2 linked regions of the Homo sapiens genome follow. The protein of the gene in region 1 purifies or fractionates together with the protein of each later gene. This does not show direct contact. Each region holds a gene or a part of one and is shown in the gene's direction. Other genes may lie near its edges.

Region 1 (3,727 bases):
TGTAGCCTCTGGAAAACTCCACTGTACTCTCAGAGTACAAGAATGAAAACATCAGAAAGCATTAGTATTATTTGGAAAAAGTTTGACTTTGCACATTTGTGAAGGCCACTTCAGCACCCACCCCCTGCCCCGGGCTCTACCTTGAGAGCTGCTGGTCTAGCTAGATCCCCCTCCTCATGATGGTTTTTCCTCACTCCCGAAGTCTGGTCTGCCTCTTTCTCAGGCGCCCACCTTTCTCCCCCACTGCCCGCCCAACCCCATACAGGATCCGCTCCAGCCCGCTGCTGGTCCTCCTCCTGGTCCTGGCTGCCGGCTTCTGGCTGGTCCAACTGCTTCGCTCAGTCTGCAACCTCTTCAGCTACTGGGACATCCAGGTGTTTTACAGGGAGGCCCTGCACATCCCCCCGGTGAGCTGGGTGGCTGTGTCTGTGCAGAGGGTGCCGTGAGAGGGTGGGCAGAGGAGAGGGGAAGAAGTGGGACTGTACAGGTGGAAGGGCCAACTGGAAAGAGGGCAGAAAGAGCGAGGTCTTATTGACACCTGCCCTAGGCCCAGAATAATGTCAGGAGGGGGCTACCACCACCTAGAGAGCATGGCCCTTACCCTAAGGGAGTTTAGTTTATTTAGATGGCTCATATAAGATGACATATAGTTACATGTTTGTGCTAAAAACATTGATTAGAGAAAAGAGAAAGGGCAGTTATCTGGCTTTTCAGAGCTGGAGGAATTTGGGTTGGGCTTCGGAAGGGCAGGACAGGAGGGGAGGGGAGCACATTCTAAGCCCCAGTGCAGGAAGGTGGGGAAAAGCCATGAGCTTTTGGAAGCTGCAGTGAGGAGATGGACCCATCAGCCTAAAACAGAGCCTTCAAAGCCATCCCCCGCATTGCAGGAAGCCACTGCATTGGCCTGTCACTGTCCACTGCTTATGCTCTGCCCTTTGTTTCCTCACCATCTTGAGTCTGCTCCTCCCTCCTCTGTATCTAAGTTCTTTCTTTGAGGCACAGCTTGAAAGTAGCCTTCTGCAGCTTGCTTCCCTTGCTCCCCTGGGAGGTCCGGAGCCCTCTGCACAGCCTTTATGTGCAGCAAGGGGAGAGGTCTTAGAAGGCCCCTGAGCAGAGGAGAGGGAGGAGGCCGGGGAAGCAGAGGTGGTGAGAGCGGAAGCTGGACCTCGGATTGGCTCTGGCGGGAGACTGCTCACCCGTCTCGTTCTCCTCCTCCCTTCTTTCCCCTCCTCCCCTGTTCCTTCCAGGGGAAGGGAAGGGAAGACACTGGGATGTACTGGAGAGGCCAGCCTGGGGGACTTGACTAACCTGGACTGGGAAAGCTGAGTGAAACTGGGCTGAAGTGAGGTTTGCAGCCTTCAAATGAGATCTGACAGTGCCCCACTGCCAGATGTGGACATAGCCCAGGTCCTGGGAAGGCTTCTGGTGACAGAGCCGAAGATGGCCTGGAGTCGGGTGGGGCTGGGAGTGTAAAGCATGCCCAGGCAGAAGGTGGGGAGGATTCTGTTCCAGAGTTGGTGGGTGCACTAGAAATGGGAAGGAGAGATTCTCCCACGAACTGCCAGACATTCTGGTTTTTTGTTTTTTTGTTTGTTTTGTTTCTTTTGAGACAGGGTCTGGGTCTTTCACCCAGGCTGGAGTGCAGTGCTGTGATATTGGCTCACTGCAGCCTCTGCTCCCCAGTAGCTGCAACCACAGGTGCACACCACCACGCCCTGCTATTTTTTGTATTTTTAGTAGAGACAGTGTCTCACCATGTTGCCCAGGCTGGTCTCGAGCTCCTAAGCTCAGACGATCTGCCTGCCTCAGCCTCCCAAAGTGCTGGGATTACAGGTGTGAGCCACCGCCCCTGGCCAGCCAGTCTGTTTTGTGTGTACAACTGAGGGGGCCTCAGGCCCTTAAGGAGCTGAGAAGCCAGGTCCAGCACCTGGAGGCGTCCCCAGGAAGTGCATGACTACTGGCCACATGAATGGCAGGGATGATGAACAGGGCAGTTTAGAAGAGGATGAAGGAAGTAGGGCGCGCCCTTGTTAGTGACAGGGTTAAGGGAGGGCAGAAAGAGAAAGGTGGGAGAGGGGGACGATGTAGCTTGGTCATGGCGAGTTTGTGATCGCAAACTCAGTTTGCGGGTTTTCAGGCCGCACACTTAGGGGTGTGGAGCTTGAGCATCACTGTGGAGAGGAATGGGGGGTCGCTGGCTCTCATCAGTGCCCCTTTCAGGAGGAGCTGAGCTCGGTTCCCTGGGCAGAGGTGCAGTCCCGCCTCTTGGCACTGCAGCGGAGCGGGGGCCTGTGCGTGCAGCCGCGGCCCCTGACGGAGCTGGACATCCACCACCGCATCCTGCGCTACACCAACTACCAGGTGGCGCTGGCCAACAAAGGCCTGCTGCCGGCCCGCTGCCCGCTGCCCTGGGGAGGCAGTGCGGCTTTCCTCAGCCGCGGCCTGGCGCTCAATGTCGACCTGCTGCTCTTCCGCGGTCCCTTCTCGCTCTTCCGCGGGGGCTGGGAGCTGCCGCACGCCTACAAGCGCAGCGACCAGCGGGGCGCCCTAGCAGCGCGCTGGGGGCGCACAGTGCTGCTGCTGGCCGCCCTGAACCTGGCGCTGAGCCCGCTGGTGCTGGCCTGGCAGGTTCTGCACGTCTTCTATAGCCACGTGGAGCTGCTGCGGCGCGAGCCTGGCGCGCTGGGGGCGCGCGGCTGGTCCCGCCTGGCGCGCTTGCAGCTGCGCCACTTCAACGAGCTGCCGCACGAGCTGCGCGCGCGCCTGGCCCGCGCCTACCGCCCCGCCGCCGCCTTCCTGCGCACCGCTGCGCCCCCCGCGCCCCTGCGCACGCTGCTGGCCCGCCAGCTCGTTTTCTTCGCGGGTGCACTCTTCGCCGCGCTGCTTGTGCTCACCGTCTACGACGAGGACGTGCTAGCCGTGGAGCACGTGCTCACCGCCATGACCGCGCTCGGGGTCACCGCCACCGTCGCCAGGTGCGACGGCAGATGCCCGGGGTGGTGGTGTGTGTTGGTTTCTCTGATCTGGGGCCATGTGAGGTTCCCCCCGAATCCTTACCTCTCCCACCACTGGGGCCCTCTAGCCCTACATCCCACCGCGCGTCCTCCTAATCGCAGGCCCCTTCCCCCCACGGATCCCGCCTTTCAGGTCTTTCATTCCGGAAGAGCAGTGCCAGGGTCGTGCGCCGCAGCTCCTGCTGCAGACAGCCCTGGCCCACATGCACTACCTCCCGGAGGAGCCCGGCCCCGGCGGCAGGGACCGCGCCTACCGGCAGATGGCGCAGCTGCTGCAGTACCGAGCGGTGAGGGTGGGCGCGACGGCGGGCTGAGGAGGAAGTTGTGGGGTCTGTCTGCGCGGAGGGTCTGTCTGCGCGGAGGGTCTGTCTGGGAGAGGGCATGAGACAAACGGACTATACCAGGAGTCTAGGGAGTGACTGGGTGGGGAGGCTTCTTGCCCTGGCGAGGGTCGCTGGGGACTGCTTGGTCCTGATAACGCGCGTGGGCCCCTCAGCGACCCCTGCTCAGCCTCACCGCTGCTTCCCCAGGTCTCCCTCCTGGAGGAGCTCCTGTCCCCGCTCCTCACCCCGCTGTTTCTGCTTTTCTGGTTCCGCCCTCGTGCCCTGGAGATTATCGACTTTTTTCATCACTTCACTGTGGATGTGGCTGGGGTTGGGGACATCTGTTCCTTTGCCCTTATGGATGTGAAGCGCCACGGACACCCTCAGGTC
Region 2 (3,805 bases), about 77 Mb from region 1:
AATTTGCCTCTTTTCCTCTCCTTCAGGACTTGGCTTGGCTGTGGTATCTTTGGGCTGAAGACTTCCTCGTCCTCAGGGCTGGCCATGGTTCCACCTTTATATCCCCATGATGTCCTCTCTTTTTTTTCTTTTTTTCTTTTTTTGAGACAGTCTTGCTCTGTGCCCAGGCTGGGGTGCAGTAGTGTGATCACAGCTCACTGCAGCCTCGAACTCCTGGACTCAAGCCACCCTCCCACCCCAGCCTCACAAGTAGCTGGGACCGCAGACAAGGGCCACTACACCTGGTTAATTTTTTATTGTTTGTAGAGATGGGGTCTTGCTATGTTGCCCAGGCTGGTTTCGAACTCCTGGGCATGAGGAGTCCTCCCACCTTGGCCTCTCAAAGTGCTGGGATGACAGGAGTGAACCACCGCGCCTAGCCAACATCCTTTCCTTCCTTTGTCCCAACATTGATCTTACTCAGATGTTTACATCTCTCTCCCCAATTGCACTAGGGACAGGAAGGGATGGAGGCTTGCTCCTCAAATACTTGTTAAATGGCTACATGTTTGAATGAATGAATGAATGAAATCCTGCTCTTGAGCCTTGACCTAAATGGCTAAGCAGACTCTCTCCTATTTTTCTTAAATGCTCATCTCTGGGGCAAGTTCCCCACCCTGGTAGGAGTCCCAGGGTCTCTCCCTGAACTTCCTGGGGCCCCCTCTCTCCCCACTACCCCAGCCTGTGTCTTCTCCCAACCTTAACCCTGGGGGCTTTGCTCCCCAATGTCATCCTCTCTGTATCTCTCAGTTCTCTGACTCTCGCCGTTTGTAAGTATCTCTCTCTCAGATGCGTGGCAGCCAGGGTCACAGCCAGGTTCTTTGGGACAAGCCAGGGGTGTATGCCCAGCTCCATGGGGCCTGCAGAGGCTTCAGGGGACACCCATGGAAGAAGACCTGCAGGGCCAATTTATAAACAGAGGAGCAGAGCAGGACCCAGGGCTTGGAATCCATGCTGAGTTACGTTTTTGTTTTTTTTTTTTTTTTTTTGAGAGGGAGTCTCACTTTGTCGCCCAGGCTGGCATGCAGTGGCGCCATCTCGGCTCACTGCAACCTCTGCCTCCTGGGTTCAAGCGATTCTCCTGCCTCAAGTAGCCGGGATTACAGGCATGCTCTACCACGCCCGGCTAATTTTTGTATTTTTAGTAGAGATGGGGTTTCATCATGTTGGCCAGTCTGGTCTAGAACTCCTGACCTCAAGTGATCTGCCCGCCTCTGCCTCCCAAAGTGCTGGGATTGCAGGCATGAGACACTGCGCCCGGTCCTGAGTTCAGTTTTGATTGGGGGGCTTCCGGGATAATATGGGGCCGCTAGGACAGGGACCCTTAGTGTGACTGGAAGGGAATTTCCTGAAGGAATTCATAGCAGAGGTGGAGTGGTGGGAAGGATGGTTTCTGGGGGAGAAGGAGATGCGTGAACCTGGCCAGAAGACAGTGTGTTGTGACAGATGATTGCTGGTGAGGGGGTAACAGTCTCCAAGGTGTAGATGTTGGGGGCTCCAGATACGGCAGGAGGGGCCTGGCCTCTCGGAATCCCCTCAGCCCCATCTCATAGAAACATGTGCTTTCTACCCAGGCTCCATACTCCGGAAGGGAGGCAGGACCCTGTCACTTTCTTGGCCTACTTTGGAAGTTCTCAGTCAGGTATCTCCAGGTGTGGCAGAGGGGCTTTGGCCTGTAGGGGGTGTGGTAATGTGGGTTTTGGAGGCAGAAAGCTTTTCAGGAAAGCCCCCTGGTCCATCACCCCCCTTTCTTTTTTTTTTTTTTGAGATGGAGTCTTGCTTTGTTGCCCACGCTGGAGTGCAGTGGCACGATCCCAACTCACTGCAACTTCCACCTCCCGGGTTCAAGTGATTCTCGTGCCTCAGCCTCCCGAGTAGCTGGGATTACAGATGTACACCACCACACCTGGCTAATTTTTGTATTTTTAGTAGAGACGGGGTTTCACCATGTTCGCCAGGCTGGTCTTGAATGAACCCCTGACCTCAAGTGATTGGCCCTCCTTGGCCTCCCAAAGTGCTGGGATTACAGGTGTGAGCCCCCAGGCCCGGCCTCATCATCACTTCTTCACCCACCCTATTTTGGTAGCTCTCTCTCCACTCGTCCTGTGGAACTGATCCATTCTCGGTCCCATTCCCTTCTCTCTGGGCCAATCTGCACCTAGGTTTGTGGCTTCATGAGTATGGAGGGTCGTGCAGAAAGGGGCCAGGTCTGTAGGAACCTGGGTTCATGCCCTGGAAATTTGCCCATTTAAGATAAGTTAGGGCCGGGTGCGGTGGCTCATGCCTGTAATCCCCAGCACTTTGCACTTCGGGAGACCGAGGCGGGCGGATCACCTGAGGTCAGGAGTTTGACTAGCCTGGCCAACACGGTGAAACCCCATCTCTACTAAAAATACAAAAATTAGCCAGGCGTAGTGGCGGGCGCCTGTAATCCCAACTGCTCGGGAGGCTGAGGCAAGAGAATTGCTTGAACCTAAGAGGTGAAGGTTGCCGTGAGCTGAGATCGTACCATTGCACTCCAGCCTGGGCGACAAGAGTGAAACTCTGTCTCAAAAAAAAAAAGATAAGATAGGTGTCCTGAATAAGATAGGTGAAATGGGTGAGGATGTACTTTATCTTACACGGTCTTAGGGAGTGTCTCAGGCGGTGAACAGAACTCTCTCGCCCCTGAGCTGGGGCCTGGCTGACCCAGAGCTATTTGTGTGCCCACCTGTCACCCTCTTTCAGGACCACCTGCTTCAGGTTGCCAGATTTAGCAAATAAAAATAAGGATGCCCAGCTAAAATTGGATTTCAGACAAGCAAGGACTAATGCAATATTTGGGATGAACTTCTAGCTAAAAGTTACCTGTTGTTGATCTGTAGTTCAGACTGAACTGGAGGTCTTGCATTTTATCTGCCAACCCTACAACTGCTGCCTCTGGGGCGGTGAGATGGATGGGGTTTGGGGAGGGGCCAGAGGTGTGTGTGGCTGACCCTGGAGTTGGGATCAGGGCTCAGTGGAGGCCCCGGGGATGATCTGGAGCGAGTTTGAATCGAGTGGAGCTGATTCACTGAATCTTGGCTTTTTTTTTTTTAATTTGTATTGAAATGAGGTCTCACTCTGTCACCCAGGCTGGAGTGCAGTGGCACAATCTCGGCTCACTGCAGCTTCTCCCTCCCCGGCTCAAGCGATCCTTCTGGCTCAGTCTCCCAAGTAGGTGGGACCACAGGCACACGCCACCGTGCCCGGCTAATTTTTTGTATTTTTGGTGGAGATGGGGTTTCGCCATGTTGCCCAGTTCCTGAGTTCAAGTGATCTCAAAGTGCTGGAATTACAGAAGTGAGCCACTGTACCCAGCCAGCAGGGTCCTTTTTCATTTTTATTTTATTCTATTTTTTGAGACAGTGTCTCACTCTGTTTCCCAGGCTGGAGTGCAGTGGCGTGATCCTACCTCACTGCAACCTCCAACTCCTGGGCTCAATGTGATCCTCCCACCTCAGCCTCTGCACCTAGCTAATTAAAAAAAAATTTTTTTTTTTTAGAGATGGGGTCTTGCGATGTTGCCCAGGCTGGTCTCAAGCTCCTGGCCTCAAGCGATCCTCCCACCTCAGCTTCCCAAAGTGCTGGGATTACAGGCAGTATCCTTCTAATGTCCTTGGTCGGGCCTCCTCCAGCCTGTGGCTCGAGGGTCTAGATCTCCTACTGGCCTGGGTGGCATGGAGGGTGTAGTCTAGGTGGCCTGAGGGGTGCCCAGGGATCCCCAGTTTGGGAAGTCCTTGTCTTC

The links.
Region 2: the proteins of ATG9B (region 1) and GTF2IRD1 purify together in Homo sapiens (affinity purification with mass spectrometry; one large-scale study listed by BioGRID and IntAct). This does not show direct contact.

What each region holds. Positions count from the first base shown.
Region 1 is NC_000007.14:151,017,868-151,021,594, reverse strand, and holds part of ATG9B (autophagy-related protein 9B), read left to right. Parts: intron 1-265; coding exon 266-407; intron 408-2,220; coding exon 2,221-2,975; intron 2,976-3,147; coding exon 3,148-3,301; intron 3,302-3,544; coding exon 3,545-3,724; intron 3,725-3,727. UniProt on the Homo sapiens protein: Phospholipid scramblase involved in autophagy by mediating autophagosomal membrane expansion. Cycles between the preautophagosomal structure/phagophore assembly site (PAS) and the cytoplasmic vesicle pool and supplies membrane for the growing autophagosome.
Region 2 is NC_000007.14:74,456,869-74,460,673, forward strand, and holds part of GTF2IRD1 (general transcription factor II-I repeat domain-containing protein 1), read left to right. Parts: intron 1-3,805. UniProt on the Homo sapiens protein: May be a transcription regulator involved in cell-cycle progression and skeletal muscle differentiation. May repress GTF2I transcriptional functions, by preventing its nuclear residency, or by inhibiting its transcriptional activation.